Linked DNA regions of Homo sapiens: region 2 is linked to region 1. Evidence: fine-mapped expression QTL. Tissue or cell type: prefrontal cortex. Region 1 holds a variant in brackets; the other region holds the start of a gene. All regions are shown on one strand. Distances are between the middles of the regions.

The links. PIP is the estimated chance that this variant, and not a neighbour inherited with it, causes the effect.
Region 2: CYP4F11 starts here. The variant in region 1 is the best candidate, but not a certain one, in a credible set for the expression of CYP4F11 in prefrontal cortex (CommonMind, PIP 0.70).

Annotation. Positions count from the first base shown.
Region 1 is chr19:15,892,203-15,897,555 of GRCh38, forward strand. It overlaps CYP4F2 (cytochrome P450 family 4 subfamily F member 2), which reads right to left. Exons shown (of 13, transcript NM_001082.5): 2 at 5,212-5,353; 3 at 3,304-3,448; 4 at 327-380; 5 at 107-234. Among named protein-coding and RNA genes, the nearest start is that of CYP4F2, 3.2 kb to the right of the region's middle. RefSeq lists an enhancer at 1-1,083. The variant T/A (reference allele first, on the strand shown) is at 3,062.
Region 2 is chr19:15,931,726-15,937,078 of GRCh38, forward strand. CYP4F11 (cytochrome P450 family 4 subfamily F member 11) reads right to left here and starts at 2,804. Exons shown (of 12, transcript NM_021187.4): 1 at 2,486-2,804. The coding sequence starts at 2,683.

The DNA of each region.
Region 1 (5,353 bases):
AGCAATGGCCCAATGGCACCCAGCAGAGCCAAAACTCCAGACTAGATCTCTCTGTTGTCCTTTCACCCCAAGGCTGCAAGTGGGACCTTGGCTTCAAATAACTCACGTGCATGATGTTCACACTCTCATTGAAAATCTTCATATAGGGCTTCAGGATGTTGAAATGGAAGGCAGGCGTCAGCATCCGACGGTGGCGGCTCCACTTGTCACCAGCACTCAGCAGGAGCCCATCCCCTAGCAGGGCAGCCAAGGGCCATGGGCAAGGACCTCTCCCTCCCCTGGCCCCCCAACGTTTTTCCCAACCCTGTTCACCTGCAGATACTCACCCAGCCAGGGCTCCAGGAAGCTGTAGAAGAACTTGTCCTTTGGTGCAATGGCAGCTGACATAAATGAGGACAATCAGGGGCCATGGAGGCAGGTGAAAGAGGGACTTTGGGGGTGGGTGGAGGCTCCCAGCAAGAGGTTTGCACTTCTCCCACTCTGAGCCCCACATAGCAGGAAGAGGGCCAAGGGCAGAGGAAGAAGGGAGGATGGGGAGGGGAGGGAAGACCAGACCAGGCTACAGCAGCACAGTACAGCAATGACACTGCCTAACATGGCGTGTAGGAGCTATGTCAGGGTTCCAGCATGCCTTGACATGCCTCCTACACGATCCAACATGTTCCGCAACCCCTGAGCACAGCTCAGCATTCTACAGAATGCTTCACAAGGACCTAGGACACCCTGTCTGTCCCAGCACTCTCTGACATCTTCTGATATGGCATCTTCTGACATGGACCTGGACATGAGACATGACCCTGACATGTGTTCACATGTCCTGACATGGCCACAAAATACATGACAATTCCTAACATGAGATGGTGTGCTCTAACATGCACATGAGATGGTCTAACATGATCTTAAAAGCGTGTTCCACATACAGGCTCTGGGTTGAATATAAATATGGTACCTTTAATGTCACAGACATAGCCAACATGTGAACCAGACTGTTCCTCAGGCATGACCCAAATATACTATAACACATGCCTCAGACAAGACTCAAATAATGTCTCAGACAGTTCACATAGGGACCCTGGGTCCCAGACCTCACACAACCCCCAGACCTCACACAACGCCCAGATGTTTGGACCACCAGGAGAAAACGGCAGTGTCAAACAGCACCTGAGACAAGAACCAAACAGGCCCTCACATGCCCCAAATGTCCTTGGCCACAGATAAGCCCCAAACTTGACCAGCTCTACATGACCCCAGTTGGAATTATATACCAGATGTAACCAGGTATAACATATTTCAGGTGTAACCAGGACCCAGGTGTAAATATACAAGGCAGACCTGGCCATATAACAGCCATTGTAGAGACACGCCCCAGACATGAGCAAACAGCAACAGAGGTTAGACAGGTGGAAGTCCAGGGGCGATGGAGGCAATGGCATCTCCACCACAGCCCCTCCTGTCTGCACATCGGTCACGTGTTCAGCTGGAGGCAGCACAGCAACCCCAGCTGTGGGCAAAGCTTGGCCAGTGCGATGTCTACCTGGAGCAAAGAGCACAGGCTTGATGCACGTGGGGAGAAAGATGTGGATGACTGCCTGCCAGGGCCCCACCCACCAGCAGCCCATATCCCCAAAGGTGCACGCCAGGCTTTGTGTGTATAGGAGACCTTCTTCTGAGCTGTGAATCTGGAGAAAAACACACAGGACCCAATTCATGCTCTCCTAGGCTGTGAGAGAGAAGGATCTGCAGGGAAGAGGTCGAAGCCCTCTCCCTGAGAATTTCAAGCAGCATCTCATCCTCCTGTCAGTGCTGAGCACCCCCTGCCTCCTCACATCCTCCATGCAGGACTCTCCAGTCCTTCAGTTACACAGACAGAAAAGGTCTTTCCCCATGTGGATCCACACACCATGTTCCCTGGGCTCTCATTCATCCCATTTTCCAGATGAAGAGCCTGAGGCTCTGAACAATAAAGTCACTTGCCCACAGTCCCAGACCACGGCAAGCCTGAGGCCTAAGACTAGGTCTGTCTGCACCCATGGCCTGAATCCTTAACCAACAAACTTCTTTGTGCCCCCAAAACAGTAGCTCTGGAAGACCCAGGCCTACCAAGACTGGGCAATCAGAGACACAGGGATTGGGTGAAAAATTGGTCCTGTGATCCAGGCCAGGAGAAGTAAACCATGGGCCATTTCTGGGAACTCTAGGGGAAAGGTGGCCTTTCCCATAAGAACTGAGCTTCTGGGACTCATCGTTGACATCATGAGGAAAAGGCCACCTTGATAGGAAAAGCGACATGGAGAAAGCTAAAGCCAAGAGAGAAAGACAGATTTCCAGTGACCTTGTGTGAGACCTGGATCCAGCCATGCCTGAAGGCCACCCTCCCTGGACTTTAAAGTCAATAGATTATCTTTCTTTGCTTAGACCACACCAGGTTGGGTTTCCACCACTCACAACTGAAAGAGACTTCAATAACCAGAGACAGCTGGGTACCAGCCCAGAGTCACTCAGCATTTTGAGGTCAGAGCCATGGTCTCTGTAGGATGCTGCCCATTCCCCCTGCTCAGCCTCGCCCGTCCAACGATGGGAAGCACAGGGGTCAAGGAAAGGGACCCAAGCTGGGGTGGAGTCTCCTCTTGGAGATCCCCGGGACCTGCAGCAGGAGAGCAACGAACTTAGGGCAGACAAGCTATAGGATGGGGTAAAGGGAATTGACCCACCAGAGGTGGACATCATGGAAGTAGCAGCCCAGATCCCCCACCAGCCACAAGTCCTCCTCATTGTTCTAGGCTTTGGGACAGGCAAGGTGATGCTAGGCCTGGCAAGGGGCCTTGAATACTAACGATGTCCAATTGCCTCACCCTGCACTCTCCTTTCAAACATTCCTACTCATTGTTCCAGACACAGCTCCAGTAACTCCTCCTCTAGGAAGCCTTCCAGCCTGCCCCAGCAGAGACCTTGTTCTTCCCTGGGCTGTGATCCATCTCCCTCTGGCCCTTTCCTGATCCCATGAAGTTGGGGATATCTCTATCCAGGTCCATCTCCTTAAAGTTGGGGGTTCCTCCAGGAC[T/A]GGGCCTTGGGTTGAGGTCTCTTAGGGTTCCAGGGCAGCCCAGAACACCAGAACAGGGGGTAGATGGCAATAGAGAGAGGAGACGCTGAGATGGAAATTGATGAATACATGAAAGAAAGATGAAGATAGCTGAGAGGGAAGGAAAGGAGAGGCCAGAGTACTGCAGGGCCCACACAGGAGCTTGGGGATAGCGGAAGTGCAGGCCTCAAATGCACTGCCCCACCAGCTGTTCCAGATGGTACCTGAGGCGTTGATGACAGACCGGATGATGTCGGGGTGGCACAAACTGAGGAGGGGGGAGATGGGTCCCATCCAGACCTTAAAGCCCTGGGGGTAGGTGGCCACCAGCTGAGTCAGAACTCTCATGCCCTCCTCTGTGGGGTTGACCTGCAAGCAAGGCAGGGGTCATTACCTTCTGTGATAGTTAATTCTAGGTGTCTACTTGACTGGGCTAAGGGATGCCCAGGTAGTTGGTCAAACATTATTTCTGGGTGTGTCTAATCTATTCATCCTATCTATCTAATTTTTCTATCTATATATCTATCTGCCTACCCATCTATCCATCAATCCATTTTATCTGTGCTTTCATCCATCCATATATTCATCTGTCTGTCTGCTTATCATCTATTAATAGCCATCTATCCGTCTAATCTATCCATCATATATATCTACTCCATCTGTCTACATAATCTATCCATCCTATCTACTCTATCTACCCATCCATCCATCATCCATCCATCCATCCATCCTATCTGTGCATCCGTGTGTCCATGCATCCATATGTCCTATTATTTGTCTATCTATCTATCCATCCATCCATCCATCCATCCATCCATCCATCCATGCTATCTGTGCATCCATGTGTCCATGCATCCATCTATTCTATTATCTATCTACCTACGTGCCTGTCCATCCATCCATCCATCCATCTATCCATCCTATCTGTGCATCTATCTATCTATCCTATTAGCTATCTATCTATCTATCTATCTATCTATCTATCTATCTATCTACATTCCTCCTGCTCTATCTATCTATCTATCCACATTCCTCCTGCTCTATCTCTCTTGGGTCCATCTCCAAGTCCCAAGGGTGCATCCCAGGGCAGAGGGAGAAGACGCACTGTCCACTCACAGAGGCCCAGTTATCTTGAGAGGAAGGATTTTCTTTTTCTGGGAGTCATTTCAGCCCAGAGGCAGCTATATGGGGAGGTCCTCACAGGGGAGATTTGTGGGGAGCAGTATCGCCTCAGGACATGTCCCTAAGGCTGGTCCCCACATGCCTTCATGTCCTGGCTGATCCACAGAGGCTCCAGTTCCTCCCATGGAGAAGGTTCTGCACATGGGAGACCTTCCCTTTTCAGCAGCCACTAGTGGAGCAGAGGTGACTCTAACTGTCCATCAGGACAATGGCTCCCACCTGGGAGCAGCTTCTGCAGCAGGCTCTGTGCTAGTGTGTCCTGTGCACCCTTCCACTTTATCTGTGGACACATCCATCAATCCTGCCATTTGCAAATGAGCAGACTAAGACCACATTCCCCAAAGAGGAGAGCGGTCTAAGTCAGAGGGCAAGGTCACGGGGAGGAGAAAGGCCAAGGAAAGCTTCTGAAAGGTGAAGTGAGTGGCCAACTTTTATCTGGGTTTGGCAACAGGTCTCATTGATAAGAGGGAGATAAGAAGAAGAATATAAGAGAAAGGTGCCTTCGGGTGTAGTGGAAGTGGGAGACGGCCCATGCCTCTCCTCTGGCCCAGCTGTACCCTCATAACAGGAAATAGTCCAGGCAAGGAGAGGACCCTGGACAGTGGGCATAAGAAGCCTCGAGTCCAGCAATGGAGAATGTGGGAATGCCAGGGACTCGCCTCTCTGTGCAGCCAACCCTCTGCCCAGGAGCCCCGCAGAGGTGCATTAATGTGGGAAGACAGGCAGGAAAAGGATTCAATGCAGGCCTGGAGTGGGAGGACAAGGAAGTGAGAAGGGCTTGCGTAGGCACCTCACAGAAATGAATAAGCAGAGGAATGAGTAAGATGCCTCCTCTGCTTCTCTGCCACCCCAGATCCCAGCCCACCCCTTCACCCCCACTCCCTAAGCCTCGTACCCCTCAGGAAGTCCATCCATCCTGAGACCTAGACCCATCCTGCTGCCACACTCACCATGCCCTGGTGTCCCCAAAACCAGTTCCGTCTTGGGGGTTGTGGGAAACACCGAAGGCGGCGGCAGTTGTCATAGAAGGCGTAGGTCCAGGCCAGGACATGGGCCAGGAGCCAGGAGGCCCCGACCAGCAGGAGGAGCAGC
Region 2 (5,353 bases), 40 kb after region 1:
AGAGGAATGAGTGAGTGAGGAGAGGAATGAGTGAGTGAGGAGAGGAATGAGTGAGTGAGGAGAGGAATGAGTGAGTGAGGAGAGGAATGAGTGAGTGAGGAGAGGAATGAGTGAGTGAGGAGAGGAATGAGTGAGTGAGGAGAGGAATGAGTGAGTGAGGAGAGGAATGAGTGAGTGAGGAGAGGAATGAGTGAGTGAGGAGAGGAATGAGTGAGTGAGGAGAGGAATGAGTGAGTGAGGAGAGGAATGAGTGAGTGAGGAGAGGAATGAGTGAGTGAGGAGAGGAATGAGTGAGTGAGGAGAAGAATGAGTGAGTGAGGAGAGGAATGAGTGAGTGAGGAGAAGAATGAGTGAGTGAGGAGAGGAATGAGTGAGTGAGGAGAAGAATGAGTGAGTGAGGAGAGGAATGAGTGAGTGAGGAGAAGAATGAGTGAGTGAGGAGAGGAATGAGTGAGTGAGGAGAGGAATGAGTGAGCGAGGAGAGGAATGAGTGAGCGAGGAGAGGAATGAGTGAGCGGGGAGAGGAATGAGTGAGTGGGGAGAGGAATGAGTGAGTGAGGAGAGGAATGAGTGAGCGAGGAGAGGAATGAGTGAGCGAGGAGAGGAATGAGTGAGCGAGGAGAGGAATGAGTGAGCGGGGAGAGGAATGAGTGAGCGGGGAGAGGAATGAGTGAGTGAGGAGAGGAATGAGTGAGCGAGGAGAGGAATGAGTGAGCGGGGAGAGGAATGAGTGAGCGGGGAGAGGAATGAGTGAGTGAGGAGAGGAATGAGTGAGTGAGGAGAGGAATGAGTGAGTGAGGAGAAGAATGAGTGAGTGAGGAGAAGAATGAGTGAGTGAGGAGAGGAATGAGTGAGTGAGGAGAGGAATGAGTGAGTGAGGAGAGGAATGAGTGAGTGAGGAGAGGAATGAGTGAGTGAGGAGAGGAATGAGTGAGTGAGGAGAGGAATGAGTGAGTGAGGAGAGGAATGAGTGAGTGAGGAGAGGAATGAGTGAGTGAGGAGAGGAATGAGTGAGTGAGGAGAGGAATGAGTGAGTGAGGAGAGGAATGAGTGAGTGAGGAGAGGAATGAGTGAGTGAGGAGAGGAATGAGTGAGTGAGGAGAGGAATGAGTGAGTGAGGAGAGGAATGAGTGAGTGAGGAGAGGAATGAGTGAGTGAGGAGAGGAATGAGTGAGTGAGGAGAGGAATGAGTGAGTGAGGAGAGGAATGAGTGAGTGAGGAGAAGAATGAGTGAGTGAGGAGAGGAATGAGTGAGTGAGGAGAGGAATGAGTGAGTGAGGAGAGGAATGAGTGAGTGAGGAGAGGAATGAGTGAGTGAGGAGAGGAATGAGTGAGTGAGGAGAGGAATGAGTGAGTGAGGAGAAGAATGAGTGAGTGAGGAGAGGAATGAGTGAGCGAGGAGAGGAATGAGTGAGCGGGGAGAGGAATGAGTGAGTGGGGAGAGGAATGAGTGAGTGAGGAGAGGAATGAGTGAGTGAGGAGAGGAATGAGTGAGTGAGGAGAGGAATGAGTGAGCGGGGAGAGGAATGAGTGAGCGAGGAGAGGAATGAGTGAGTGAGGAGAGGAATGAGTGAGTGAGGAGAGGAATGAGTGAGTGAGGAGAAGAATGAGTGAGTGAGGAGAAGAATGAGTGAGTGAGGAGAGGAATGAGTGAGTGAGGAGAGGAATGAGTGAGTGAGGAGAGGAATGAGTGAGTGAGGAGAAGAATGAGTGAGTGAGGAGAGGAATGAGTGAGTGAGGAGAAGAATGAGTGAGTGAGGAGAGGAATGAGTGAGTGAGGAGAAGAATGAGTGAGTGAGGAGAGGAATGAGTGAGTGAGGAGAAGAATGAGTGAGTGAGGAGAGGAATGAGTGAGTGAGGAGAAGAATGAGTGAGTGAGGAGAAGAATGAGTGAGTGAGGAGAGGAATGAGTGAGTGAGGAGAAGAATGAGTGAGTGAGGAGAGGAATGAGTGAGTGAGGAGAAGAATGAGTGAGTGAGGAGAAGAATGAGTGAGTGAGGAGAGGAATGAGTGAGTGAGGAGAAGAATGAGTGAGTGAGGAGAGGAATGAGTGAGTGAGCAGAGGAATGAGTGAGTGAGGAGAAGAATGAGTGAGTGAGGAGAAGAATGAGTGAGTGAGGAGAGGAATGAGTGAGTGAGCAGAGGAATGAGTGAGCGAGAAGAGGAATGAGTGAGTGGGCAGAGGAATGAGTGAGCGGGGAGAGGAATGAGTGAGCGGGGAGAGGAATGAGTGAGCGGGGAGAGGAATGAGTGAGCGGGGAGAGGAATGAGTGAGTGGGCAGAGGAATGAGTGAGTGGGCAGAGGAATGAGTGAGCGGGGAGAGGAATGAGTGAGTGGGCAGAGGAATGAGTGAGCTGCCTCCCTCTCTTCTCTGTGTTCCCACACCCCAGCCACCCTCAAAACCCAGCTCCCTGAGCCCCATTCCTGCCCCTCAGGAACTCCATGCATCCTGAGACCCCAGACCCGTCCTGCTGACAAACTCACCAGGCCCTGGTGTCCCCAAAACCAGTTCTGTTTCGGGGGTTGAGGAAAACACTGGAGGCGGCGGCAGTTGTCATAGAAGGTGTAGGTCCAGGCCAGGACGCGGGCCAGGAGCCAGGAGCCTCCAACCAGCAGCAGAAGCAGCCACGGGGATGCTGCCACGGGCCCGAGGCCCAGCCAGGACAGGCTCAGCTGCGGCATCCTGCAGGGCAGACGGGATGGAGGGTGGGATCCTGAGGCCCAGGGAAGGGCCCAGGAAGCTCCAAGGACAGTGGAAAGGGGCAAGGATGGGCAGTGCTGGAGGCAGATCAGGGAAGGCTCTGAGATGGGTAAACAAGAGCTGAGATCTAAAGTCCAGAAATGCCCAATGAAAACCAGCAGCCAAGTGGCCTCCAGTTACACAGAAAGGGAAAGAGAGAGAGAGGCTGATTAGAATCCAAAAAGGCCCAGCCTGAATCACTGGGAGGTTGCCAGGGGTCCAGTTACCAGGAAATCACCAGTCTCCCAGGCCAGCAGCCTTGACCCACCCCAACCTTGGGCAGTCCCCTCCCCATCCCAGGCCAGGACCCTCCAGCCCTGCCACTGCCAGCCTGGCTCCTATCAGAAGCAGCTTGTCCCACATACCCTCCTCTCCCCCTCTGCTAGGAGGTCTTTGCCTCTGGCCCCTGATTTCCGGAAGGCTGTGGGAGGCGAGGCTGGGCTGGGCTGGTCGAGCCAATCCCCATGGACTGGGTGTGTCTTCCAAGCCTGGGCAACCAACCAAAACCTGGCGTAGGGCCAGCTGGGTGCAGAGGAGCCAGCTCAGGGTGACACAGCATGGGCACAGGATCCGCAGGTCTCAACATCTCACACCTGAGTGGGAGGGGATCTTGAGGAAGAGTCAAAGGTGACTCTGAGCCCCAAAGTTTACAGCCACCTTGCCCTTCCAAGGCAAGAGTGTGGCAGATAAAGTCATGAACTTGAGAGTTCAGGTGGCAAGAGAGTGGGGCCAGGCCAACCATTGTGCCAGATCATGTTCTGAGCTCCTCTCCACATGTGGTCCAGGAGTTCATCATGCACCATTTCTCAGTGCAGACTTAGGAGATTCAGAGACAGAAGCTCCTGGCCTCTGGCTTCACAGTCTGGCAGGAGTTCAAGTCCTGCCTCCAGGCAACCCAGGGCCTGGGTCGAGACATGACTGACAGGAGTAGGAACAAACTATCTAACTGTGCTGGGGATTACCCGGTCAGATTTTAGAGATAAAGAGCCCCGCTGGAGGAGAATACCTGGAGGCTAGGTTCAGCATAGGAGGACAGAGAGGGGAGATGGGAGGTAAGGCTGAGAGGGGCCATGAGTGGATGGGGCCAGGGACAGGAGGGCAGAGATGGGGGACCCTGAGTGGAGTCCTTATTCTGCCCTCCCCTTGCCCTAACTGTGGGTAGTGAGCCCCTCCTGGACTCAGGCTTCCCATCTGGGAAATGGGATGTCAGATAAGGCCTTAGAGGGGGACAGAGGAGGGATCACAGGAAAATGGGCCTTAGATGGGGACAGATGAAAGATTCTGAGGAGGGAGTGAAGGGAAGGGGCTGGCAGCTAGCACTTTAGCTGCTGTGTGTCAGTCTCTGCTCTTTGCAAAAGACAATATGCAAAGTTCTTTTACTGTGTACTGGACTCTAAATAAAGCACACCTACCATGTGCCAGGTACTCTGTATACATGTTGTGTACTGTGTGCCAAGTGCTCTATGAAAAGTGTGTCCACTGTGTGCTGGGCGCTCTACAGAAAATCTTGCTTCTTTGTTCTCGGTCCTCTATATAAAGTGAAATTTGTGCGGAGTAACTTATGTAAAGTGTACCTACTCTGCACCTGCTGCTCTATATAAAACACACCTACTGTGTGTCAGATGTTCTATGTAGAGCATGTTTACTACGTGCCTGGTGATCTATGTCAAGTGCACCTACTGTGTGTCAAGTGCTCTACATAAAGCGTGCCTACTCTGGGTGCTGGGTACTCTTCATAAACTGTGACTCCATGTGTCCGGTACTCTACATAAAGCACACCTACTGTATGCCAGATGCTCTACATAAAGTGTTCTTTCTGTGTGTCAAGTGCTCTACATAAAGCGTGCCTACTCTGGATGCTGGGTACTCTTCATAAACTCTGACTCTGTGTGGCCGGTACTCTACATAATGCACACCTACTGTGTGCCAGATGCTCTATATAAAGTGTTTTTTCTGTGTGTCAAGTGCTCCACATAAAGTAAAACTACTCTATGTAAAGTTCTTGACATAAAGAATGCCTACTGTGTGCAAGGCACTCTCCACAAAGCACTCCTACTATGTGGCAGGGGCTCTAGGTAAAGCATGCCTACTGTGTTCCACCTACTCTAGGTCAAGTGCACCTGCTCATGTCAGATGCTCACCCGCGTCACCATGCCCAAAGCCTTCACACCAACCTCCCCTCGGTTCTCTGAGCCAGAGCCCTGGGATTGTTGGAGAGACCTGAGTGATGGCATCCAGAGAAGGGAATGCATCCATTTAACAAAAGAGCAAACTGAGTCTCAGAGAGGGCAGGCCTCTAGCCCAAGTTACAGAGCTCACAGGAAGCCAGGTTTGTGAGATCCTCAAGCCCAAACCTTTTTCCTCTGCCATGCTGTTCTGCACCCATTCATTAGGGTCAATGCCATATTAATACAGGGACATGTATAAATGGAGGAATCTCAGGCAATGTCATGGTCCCAGAGGGGAAATATCTTGAGGTCTTTGAATCAGCACCTGGCTCCTCCTCCCACACCCCGGATGCTCCACCCAGCAGACCCAGGGCTCCCCTCCTGGCCCTCCTTGTATCCTGTCCAGAATTGCCCTGCCGGGTGGACTTGGGTGAGGGGGTGCTT